2 separate regions of the Homo sapiens genome follow, and region 1 is linked to region 2. Evidence: fine-mapped expression QTL. A gene starts in region 2. The other region holds a variant in brackets. All regions are shown on one strand. Distances are between the middles of the regions. Region 1 holds the start of CSF1 (colony stimulating factor 1). Region 2 holds the start of AMIGO1 (adhesion molecule with Ig like domain 1).

The links.
Region 1: its variant is fine-mapped to the expression of AMIGO1 in putamen (GTEx, PIP 0.97).

The regions. Positions count from the first base shown.
Region 1 is chr1:109,909,169-109,914,486 of GRCh38, reverse strand. CSF1 (colony stimulating factor 1) reads right to left here and starts at 3,638. Exons shown (of 9, transcript NM_000757.6): 1 at 3,425-3,638; 2 at 106-228. The coding sequence starts at 3,463. RefSeq lists enhancers at 2,252-2,351, 2,428-2,928, 2,929-3,429 and silencers at 3,215-3,324, 3,375-3,544. The variant A/C (reference allele first, on the strand shown) is at 2,704.
Region 2 is chr1:109,506,671-109,512,038 of GRCh38, reverse strand. AMIGO1 (adhesion molecule with Ig like domain 1) reads left to right here and starts at 2,312. Exons shown (of 2, transcript NM_020703.4): 1 at 2,312-2,619; 2 at 3,040-5,368. The coding sequence starts at 3,127. The coding sequence ends at 4,608. It overlaps LOC105378893 (a long non-coding RNA gene), which reads left to right. Exons shown (of 3, transcript XR_001738179.2): 3 at 1,398-1,437. RefSeq lists silencers at 2,309-2,428, 2,489-2,638, 2,649-2,708.

The DNA of each region.
Region 1 (5,318 bases), 400 kb before region 2:
GCCCTATTTTCCTGCCTGCAACTGCTCTCTTTGACCTGCTCCCTGGCTCCTGCCTTCATTTCCCCAGTGGGGAGAAGGTAGAATACAGCATGGCCACACACTCACCAGCCGCTGCAGAGACTGCAGGTGTCCACTCCCAATCATGTGGCTACAGTACTCCGACACCTCCTCGGTGATACTCCTGCTCGCCAGGAGACAGACCAACAACAGCAGGGAGCCCAGCCATGTCTGTGACAGAGAGGGTGTCATTTCTCCCCAGGTCTCACTCTCCCCAGTTATCCCCATGCCCTGCTCAACGCAGAAAAACAAAGGCCTCATATCTACAATGCTACAGGCTCTGCCCCTTACCTCAGGATACAGCATCCCTCAAATCCAGCTTTCCCAGGATTTCTAGCAGCCACAGCACAACCTTGTTCTCCCATGAAAACAACCCAGATGTCACCTTCTACAAGAAGCCTTCCCAGATTAAGCCAGCCAAACCTAACTATACATTGAACTAATACTGACACAGATGGTGTGCCTACCAGCCTAAATTTTAATGACACAGGAAACTCGAGAGCAGGACTTGCATCTACCCATTTTTTTCTGTCTCTGCAACATCAACACTGAGCCAAGCACTTTTTGAACTGCCCTCAAGTTCATGTTCATGCACCGGCTTTCAGATGGCAAGCCAGAGACAGCTCCCCTGGGCCCAGCATTTCCTCCCACCTGGTTCCATGCAGATCTGGCTCTGCCACTGGAAAAACTGTGGGATCAAACTCAGTTTCACTGGAACTCATCCCTTGCCAGAGACATCTTGGAGCCCTGGGTGTGTGTTTCAAAAGGAGCCCAGCTGATTAATCAGAGGCACCAGTGCCAGTAATGGGCCATCCCTTGCCTGGCACCTGCCTATTTGAGCACCATCAGGCTTTGCCTCCAGCCAGCCACCTCTTATCATGGCAGAGAAGTTTTCTGAGACCCCTCTTCTCTCCCAGCACCTACCTGGCCCAGTAGTTGCTCAGCCCCAGAGTGATGGGACTGGCTCCTGATGCCCTGTCTTTCCCCTTCCTTCCTCTCTTCCTTCTCTTCACTGGGGTCTCCTCATCCCTACCCCTGGCCCTAGGTCTCTCCTTCTTCAGCCAAAAGCAGACAGACTCTTGGGCTTTCTTTCTCCAGCTTGAGGTCACCTCCTGAGAGCTCCCAAGCCTCCTGGCGGCTGATGCCCCCAGATTCAGGGAAATGCTGGCAGGGTAGGGTGAAGGTTGACACTATCCTGGACTCTGGGTTTTGCCTCAATAATCCAGATGTTGAGACAAATACTGCAAATAAGTTGCTCACTGGAAAAACACAACGAGGCTATGAAACAGCCCACAACAATGTGCTAATCTACATATCACCAAAAGCCCAAATGCTTGCCAGCTCTTCTGGGGAGGAGAAGGCAGCTCTGGCTGGGTGACCAGGGAGACTGCAGAGAGCAGGGACCTCAGTGAGGCCTTGAAAGATGGGGAGAAGGTGATGGCAGGAGAGGGGTGGGAGCCATGGAAGGAAGAGCCAAAGGATAGTTTCATACCACTCAGCACAGGGACTGTGAGGATCCTGGCTGATCTGAGGGAGGGAAAGTGTGGAAGAGGGGGACGGCAGTCACGGGGGCTGGGGGGACTTCAGGCTCTGTTGGGGAGGTTGCCCTGGGTGGGAATAATGGCCCAGGTACTCAGAAACCTTAGGTTCAGGAATGATTGGAGGAAACTGGGCCACTAGACGGTGTATCTACCCCAGACTGGCTGCCACTCAAGGTCTGGAGTGAATGGTATGGATGAAAGGGACCGCTCAGGAAGACAACCTCCCTGGAGGAGAGCAAGGTGGGAGCAATGCTTAACCCCAAGGGCTGTCTGGCTTTGATGACATTTGAGGCATCAGTGTGGGGAAAGTGCAGCCACTACATGAGAGGCTGACTTCGAAGCTGGCCAAAGGGGATACCCCTGGACCTGGGGCCTCCATTCTGCCTCAGGAGGATCTGGACAGACAGTGGGGGGTTAACACTCTGGCTTGCATCTGGCTGGGCAGGCTCTCCTCTGACTGCCTCTTCCTCCCACCCCTAGCCCTGGCTTCTGCCTGGGGAGCAGCCCTCAGAAGGAATCTCTGCTGCAGGCTCAGAGATGCTAGGACACCTCAGTCCAGCTGTCCAGCCTCCTCTGCCACCTATCCTATTCCATTTCATCTTCCCCCTCAACAAGGCCTCTGGAGAGACCTGGCAGAACCGGGCCCTTGGACTTCCCCTGTCTAAACACAGCCCCCTTGTCTTTCTCTTCTTTCCTCATGGTCTCCCCTTCAGCCCCGAAGCTTTGCTTTCTGCCTATGGCTAACCCTTCTCCCTTCCCCTCTCAACTCTATCTCCTCTCTCTCAGTGAGGCACTTTCTTTCTGTGGACCCACTCTTCCCTTTCTCTCTCACCTCACCTGCAGCCCGCTCTCCTCTACCCCCAAATAATTTTCTGCTCTTTTCCCCCCAGGTTTCCCCTCTCATTTTCTTCCAGGACTCCTCAGAAGCAAATCTATTATGAGCCCACTGACTGGTCATGAACAGTGCCACCCTCACTTTCTATGGCTGCATCTGCTACCGCCACAGTTGGGGCAGGGCGTCCCTTACGCAGTCAGGAGCAGACCCTGCCCCTGGACACAGCTCTGCAACACCAAACCCTCTTTCCATTTTCCTCAAGCACTGCAA[A/C]CCACCATAAACCACCACAAAGCCCAGAATCTCCCCAACCGATGAAACCAGAATTTGCAAGAAAAAGAGATTCTGAGCTAGCCCCAAGCAGCCCCGGGGGTGGGGGGCTGTTTGCCGGCTGTTGCCGTCCCCCACCCCACCCCCCAAACAGCCACCCAAGTCCTCCGTAGCTCCTGCCTGTGGGCTGGAACAAGCAGTGGCTTGCCCCTCTCCGTCCCTCTGCCAGCAAGTCCCTGGCGTTCTATAAGCTGGTTGACCCCCTGAACTTTCCCTGCCCAGAAGCGCCCACTCCTCAGCAGGGCCTTGGAAGCACGTGTGTGGCCGATGAGGAAGGTGCCCACCGGGGAGGGCACACACTCAGCGCACAGCCACTCCGCCCGTGCCTTGGTGGTGGCGGGTAGGGAGAGAGGCAGGGCACCCTGGCTGAGCGGGGGCTCCTGCCTGCAGGTGGCTCAGTGTTCCCCTCCGTGCAATGGGGTGAGCAGCCCTCCGTTTCCCAGGGAAGCCTGGCAGTCCCGGTGCAGCTGCAGGGCCGCCACCGGCCTCCGCCCTGGCGCCAGGGCCCAGTCCGTGCGCAAAGGCGGTTCGTCCGCGGCGGGAACGCCGGGCCAGTGCAGCCGGCGCGCCCAGGCTGTCGGCTCCGAGGGGCCGCTCCCGGCCGCCTGGCCGCCGAGCCCCCGCCCCAGCCCGTCCCGGGCCCAGCGCCGCGGCCGTCGCTTACCGTGGGAGGGCAGCGCCCGGCGGCGCCCGGCGCGGTCATACGGGCAGCTGGGTCCCGGCCGGGCGCGTCGGCCGCCCTCGCTCGCTCGCTCGCTCGCTGGCTGCTGCGGAGTGGGCGCCCCGGCCGAGGGCCGCACCGCTGTCCTGGGATGCGGAGAGCGGCTCTGGCGCCGAGAGGACCCAGGCAAACTTTCACTTTCCCCGGGCCGAGCCTCACTGGCCAGCCCTCGGCACAGCCTTTTAAGAGAGGACTGGGGGGCATGTGGTTTATGGGAAATCACCCTGGCCAGGCGCCAGACACACACATACACACACACACACACACACTGACACAGACACACACACTCCAGAGGCCCACTCAGCCGCCTTCCCCCGCCTCCCCTCCCCCACCCGCCGGCCGGCCAGCCCCGCTCGCGCGTCTTCCTAGTCACCCTCTGTCTTCTGCGCTGCACTTCCAAGCCTTCAGCAAACGAGCGCGGGCTCCACCGCGTCCCCACCCTGCCTTCCCCGCGCCCTCTGCGGACCGACCCTTTCCTTCCGCGCTCTCCAGGCTGATTCAGTGCTAGCGCTCTATGATCGTCCCAAGGGACTTTCCCTCCAGGCCTGAAAATCCCCAAATCTTAGCAGAAAACGGACCGAGAGCAGGGACAAGCACTGGGAAGGGAGGGAAATCCTTTGAAGACGCCCCCACCCCATTCTCGGAGTGCCGAAAGGAGTCCAGTGTTACTTGCTCCCTCGTGGAGCCTGAGTCAGCAGGTTTGCCGGCAGCCCCCTTCTTCCTCTGCAGCCCCCAAGCAGCCCGGCCAGCTTCAAGTCCCATTCTGGGAGGGAGGCCAGCTACCTGGCCAGGAAGGGAGCAGCTGTGTCCTGTGACAGCAAGCTGGGGGGCTCTTCCCTGGGTGCCAGCAGACACTTCAAGGCACCTGACCCTTAGATGATGAAAATGCTGGCTGGTACCCATGCTCTCTCCTGGAGGCAAAATCCAACTCAGATTGGAAAGGTCCTGCACCTGGACCCTAGATTTCCCTGGATGTTTTTGGAAATTGCACTTACTGAGGTGATTAATCACGTTTTGTTTCTACATGAGAATGAGTCTAAGTGAGGACTAGTAGGATGAGCCTAAGCCTATTAATTATAATGCCAACTTCAGGAGATTTTTCTTTCTTCAATTCATTATGATTCAATTCCTCTGTGAGGTTGCCCGTTTCCACCCCCTGGGAAATAAAGGATATGTGGCCTGCTCTTGAAGAGGAGTCTCTTGTCAGTAGCGCTACATATCCTTCACTCCAATCCTAGGCAATAATTTTACACCCGAATGCCTTTGCTCAGACTGGTCCCTCTGCCTGGAATGCTCCTTTCTCCACATGGCTGAAGACAAACTCCTCATCATTTCAGGCTGAAATTGCATCTCATCCTCCACCAGCAAAGCCTTCTGTGACTCTCCTGGCAGAGCAAAGGGTCCTTTTCCTGTGTTCCCATTGGACTTGGCTCATTCCTCAATGCTGGCTCTGATAAGTCATTTGCCATCCATTCATTCTCCACAGTACTTTTCGAAGTGTTTAAGGTGGTACCGATGGTTACATTCTGTCCCCACCCTAGACCGAGACTTCTTCCAGGTGGCACCCATGCTCAGTCACCTCTGGATCAATGGTACCTAGCACATAATAGGTACCAAGTTAATGATGGCTGAGTTGAATGATGCCATTAGAGAATACTTTGTTCTTTTGACAAATATGTGCTACCAGATGCTAGGCACCGTGCTGGGCCCTGGGGATACAACAATGACATGGTCACTGTACAATAATGATTTCAGATAACATGTTGACACCACAGTTCTTAAGACTGATAAAAGGTTAGAGGAAGTAACCTGAGAAAGATAAACCAACAGACTTGTT
Region 2 (5,368 bases):
ATGATGACATTTCTTTAATAATTATTGAAATGGGTGATGGGTATATGGGAGTTCATTGTACTATTCACTTTTGTGTATGTTTGAAAATTCTCAAAATTAAAAAATAGATGTAACTTCAGAGATGATGTGTGTGATAGCCAGCCTCCAAGATGGTCCCAATGATCCTCTCTTCCTGGTATTTGTGCCCTTGTGTAGTTCTTCCATATTGAATCAGGAATTGCATATGTGACCAAAGTGGAGGTGATATCCATCACTTCAAAGAGCCAGATCACTGTGACTTCTGTCTTGCTGTCTCTTGCATCTCTTGCTCTGAGGGAAGTCAGCTACCGTGTTGTGAGGAAACTCAAGCTGTCTTGTGGAGAGACCTTTATGGATAAGAATAGAGGTTTCCTGCCAACAGCCAGCCACATGAATTTAAGTGAGCCTCTATGGCCCCAGTGAAGCCTTCTAATGACTGTAGCTCCATCTAACGCATAACTGCATGAGAAACTGCCAAGCCAGAACTGTCCACCAGACTGCTCTTGAATCTGACCAACAGACACTGTGAAAGGCAATAAATGTATATTGCTGTAGGAAGTCACTAAGTTTTGGGGTAATGTGATTATGCAGCAATAGATAACTGATGCAATGTGATTTCAAGATTCTTCACACCTTGTCCTCCAAAAAGATTACCCTCCTCATCTTTTCAATGATGCCTGAAATGAACAGAACAGAACATCTTTCTCTTTTTTCTTTCTTTCTTTCTTTCTTTCTTTCTTTCTTTCTTTCTTTCTTTCTTTCTTTTTTTTTTTTTTTTTTGAGACAGGATCTTGCTCTGTCACCCAGGCTGGAATGCAGTGACACAAACATGGCTCACTGCAGCCTTGACCTCCAGGGCTCAAGTGATCCTCCGACCTCAGCCTCTCAAGTAGTGGGCACCACAGGTGCGTGCCACCATGCCTTTTTTTTTTTTAAGAGACAGAGTCTCACCATGTTGCCCAGGCTGCTCTCGAACTCCTGGGTTCAAGCAATCCTCCTGCCGCAGCCTCCCAAAGTGCTGGGATTACAGGTGTGAGCCACTGCACCTTGCAGAAAGACCTTTTCACACTATGCATAAGATTAACACGCTAATACTCCTTGAAGAGATAATATATTCACTAAAATTCATGGTAAAACATGTGACAGATATAAATTCTTTTTAAAACTCTTAGCAAGCTAATCTACTGAGACATTAATTTCAGTCTTGATCTTGCTGTTATAAGAGACTGGAACAAATAAAAAGGTAATTTCTTATGGTCCACCATCTCAAGAACAGCTAACATCTTGAATGATAAGGTCTAGGCTCTTCCTGCATCTCTCTCTTTCCTCACCCCCAAACCCAAACAACATACACTAGTAACAGCTTCTTGTTGTTTCAGGGGCCACCCTAAAGAAGAAACCCCTCCACCTCCACCACTGGCCTTCATCTTGAGGATTAGGTAACAGAGAAACTATGTTGCAATTGCTCCATAAGGGGAGTGGGGAGCTGGCACTGGTTTAGGAAGAAGGCAAGTGGCCAGACCTAAGGGCTGAATGACTTCCTCCGGGCTGGGAAGGGTTTCGGAGTTTCCAGGAATGGAAATTGTCCCTGGCTTGTATGCAGTCCGTGTGTGTGTGTGTGTGTGTGTGTGTGTGTGTGTGTGTGTGTGTAGCAGGTGGAGTGGGGAGAGGTGCATGAGGTGTCTGTAAAGGGGTGTTCTGGGGCCTGGGCTCACCAAACACCCCCTTTCCCCTCACTCCTGCGCAGCTGGCTTGCAGGCTAAGGAGCTGTGCCCTTCAGTGGTACCTCAAGGGTCATGAACTAGTAGCATCAAGACGGGGGTGGGGTGGGGGGAACCCCTCCCCCAATTTTTGAGACCCCACAGCCACAGAGAGAAGGGAGGGGGAACCTCAGAATGTGACTAATGAATTTCCCGCCAACATTGGCAGGCGGGAGCTGAGCCAGATTTCTTCAATTTGCGAAATTAAAAGACATGTGACGCCTCTTGCCCGAGTAGGTGCAGCGAATTCACTTTAGTTAGACTTTTCCTGAGAGCCGGTCTGTGTAGCGAGAAGGGTGCTGGGAGATGGGGGAATGGGGGATGGAGGAAGTTATAGCGGAGCCTAAGGGGCCAGTGCCGCTCTTCCTGCCAATTTTCGTCTTTAGCTCAGCGTCCGGAGCTCGCTGGTTGAGGGAACGACCCCGCGCGCGTCCGCCCGGCCGGCTCCGACACAAACACACGCACGTGCGCCCCGCCCCCGCCGCGCGCACGCGCCCCGAGGCTCCGGCGGCGGCGACGGGCGCGCGCGCGGTGCTCGCTGCCCCCACGCCGCTCCCTCCGCTGGGATCGCTGCGCCTCCGGCTCCCCGCACCGATCCGCGCCAGGCCTGCGGACCTGGAGGCAGCGACCGCGGTCGGTGGGCTCCGGCGGGCTCAGCGGTCGAGGCGGTGGCAGGGTGAGCGGAGCGGGGCCCCGCAAGTCCCCGGGAGGCGACGGTGCCGGGCGCGGGCCCCTGCGTAAGGTGGGCGCAGTGACAGGCCGGCCGGTGAGGCGCCGCCGGGAGAGGCCGCGACGGAGCTCCCAGACCGGCCATGGGCTGAGACACGTCCTCGCCGAGCAGGTGCAGTGACCGGAGGCCCCGGGGGGAGCCCGCCCCTACAGGCCCCGGGGACCCTCAACCCCGACCGGACGCGTCCTACCCAGCCCGGTGCCCTGTTGACCTTCCCTCAGCTCCTCCCAAAAGGCACACCGACCCCACCTCCAAACCCTGCCCGTGCCATCCCTGTGACTCCCAGCAGTCCCTGCCATCCTGTGCATACCTGCAGCCTGCACCCCTGTGACCCCAGCCCAGTAGGCCCTCGGGCCACCTCCTCTTCGGCCGATATTTACAGCCCACTGCCTGCACAGTGCCTGGAAACTACCCAGCATCTCTCTCTCCTAGCCCAAAGGGGGTGGAGGTAAGGGTGGGAGGGGAAGTGGGAGAGGGTGTCCTTCCCTCTGGAGTCCTTGGTGACCACAAACCCATCCTCTTTCTCTCAAGTGACCCTTCCGTACCCCACCAGAACATGCCCGGGTGACCTCCTCCCAGATCTTCCTTGTGGCCTTCCTCGCCCACTCCAGTGACACTATGCACCCCCACCGTGACCCGAGAGGCCTCTGGCTCCTGCTGCCGTCCTTGTCCCTGCTGCTTTTTGAGGTGGCCAGAGCTGGCCGAGCCGTGGTTAGCTGTCCTGCCGCCTGCTTGTGCGCCAGCAACATCCTCAGCTGCTCCAAGCAGCAGCTGCCCAATGTGCCCCATTCCTTGCCCAGTTACACAGCACTACTGGACCTCAGTCACAACAACCTGAGCCGCCTGCGGGCCGAGTGGACCCCCACGCGCCTGACCCAACTGCACTCCCTGCTGCTGAGCCACAACCACCTGAACTTCATCTCCTCTGAGGCCTTTTCCCCGGTACCCAACCTGCGCTACCTGGACCTCTCCTCCAACCAGCTGCGTACACTGGATGAGTTCCTGTTCAGTGACCTGCAAGTACTGGAGGTGCTGCTGCTCTACAATAACCACATCATGGCGGTGGACCGGTGCGCCTTCGATGACATGGCCCAGCTGCAGAAACTCTACTTGAGCCAGAACCAGATCTCTCGCTTCCCTCTGGAACTGGTCAAGGAAGGAGCCAAGCTACCCAAACTAACGCTCCTGGATCTCTCTTCTAACAAGCTGAAGAACTTGCCATTGCCTGACCTGCAGAAGCTGCCGGCCTGGATCAAGAATGGGCTGTACCTACATAACAACCCCCTGAACTGCGACTGTGAGCTCTACCAGCTGTTTTCACACTGGCAGTATCGGCAGCTGAGCTCCGTGATGGACTTTCAAGAGGATCTGTACTGCATGAACTCCAAGAAGCTGCACAATGTCTTCAACCTGAGTTTCCTCAACTGTGGCGAGTACAAGGAGCGTGCCTGGGAGGCCCACCTGGGTGACACCTTGATCATCAAGTGTGACACCAAGCAGCAAGGGATGACCAAGGTGTGGGTGACACCAAGTAATGAACGGGTGCTAGATGAGGTGACCAATGGCACAGTGAGTGTGTCTAAGGATGGCAGTCTTCTTTTCCAGCAGGTGCAGGTCGAGGACGGTGGTGTGTATACCTGCTATGCCATGGGAGAGACTTTCAATGAGACACTGTCTGTGGAATTGAAAGTGCACAATTTCACCTTGCACGGACACCATGACACCCTCAACACAGCCTATACCACCCTAGTGGGCTGTATCCTTAGTGTGGTCCTGGTCCTCATATACCTATACCTCACCCCTTGCCGCTGCTGGTGCCGGGGTGTAGAGAAGCCTTCCAGCCATCAAGGAGACAGCCTCAGCTCTTCCATGCTTAGTACCACACCCAACCATGATCCTATGGCTGGTGGGGACAAAGATGATGGTTTTGACCGGCGGGTGGCTTTCCTGGAACCTGCTGGACCTGGGCAGGGTCAAAACGGCAAGCTCAAGCCAGGCAACACCCTGCCAGTGCCTGAGGCCACAGGCAAGGGCCAACGGAGGATGTCGGATCCAGAATCAGTCAGCTCGGTCTTCTCTGATACGCCCATTGTGGTGTGAGCAGGATGGGTTGGTGGGGAGATTCTGCCCCAGGAGAGGTAATGCACCCCTGAAGGATATGAGGGGATGGAAGAGAGGGCTGGCTGCCCAAGGGAATGGATTCCTCCTGACCTCAAGGGAATTGGTCCCAGGTACAACAGAGAGCAAGACCCCAAACAGGGCGTGGCTGCCACGATTTTCAAATGGGGGTATATTAATCCTCAGGCAAATGCTACACCCGTACCCAAAGCCCTGCCAATTCTCAGTGTGGTAGAGGAAGAGAAGCATGTCTGAGTTGGATGGGAATGAGGAAGGAGTGAGGGGAAGAACAGATTCCCTAAACTTTCATGAGGTCATCCCTAGCTCCTTAAGAGAAAAACATTTAGAAAAAAAAATTTTTTCTATCTCTGCCCACCCACACCTGTGATGTTGTGTGTGTTGGGGGAGCTTCCACAGGAGCCACACTGGGGAAAAGCTGTAGTATCTTCTTTGTTTAGCAAGTCAAACTTCACAGCTGGGGAAGTTGAAAACCTTTGGAAAATGAGTCAGGAAAAGGCTGAGACCTCAATCGGTAACAATTCCCCAAAGCTGTTGTAAGACTTTGCATTAAAGCCTTCCTTTTTCCTGATGTGCCCTGGGTGGATGGATCTTTGCAGGAGCCTGGCCTGCTGCCTTTTAGTTACAACAGCAATGTGGGATGTGGTATCTGTGCCTTGTCCTGGGACCAATGGCACAGAGGGTTATAGCATGAACTGAAGGGTCCATGTCACAGCATAGGTGC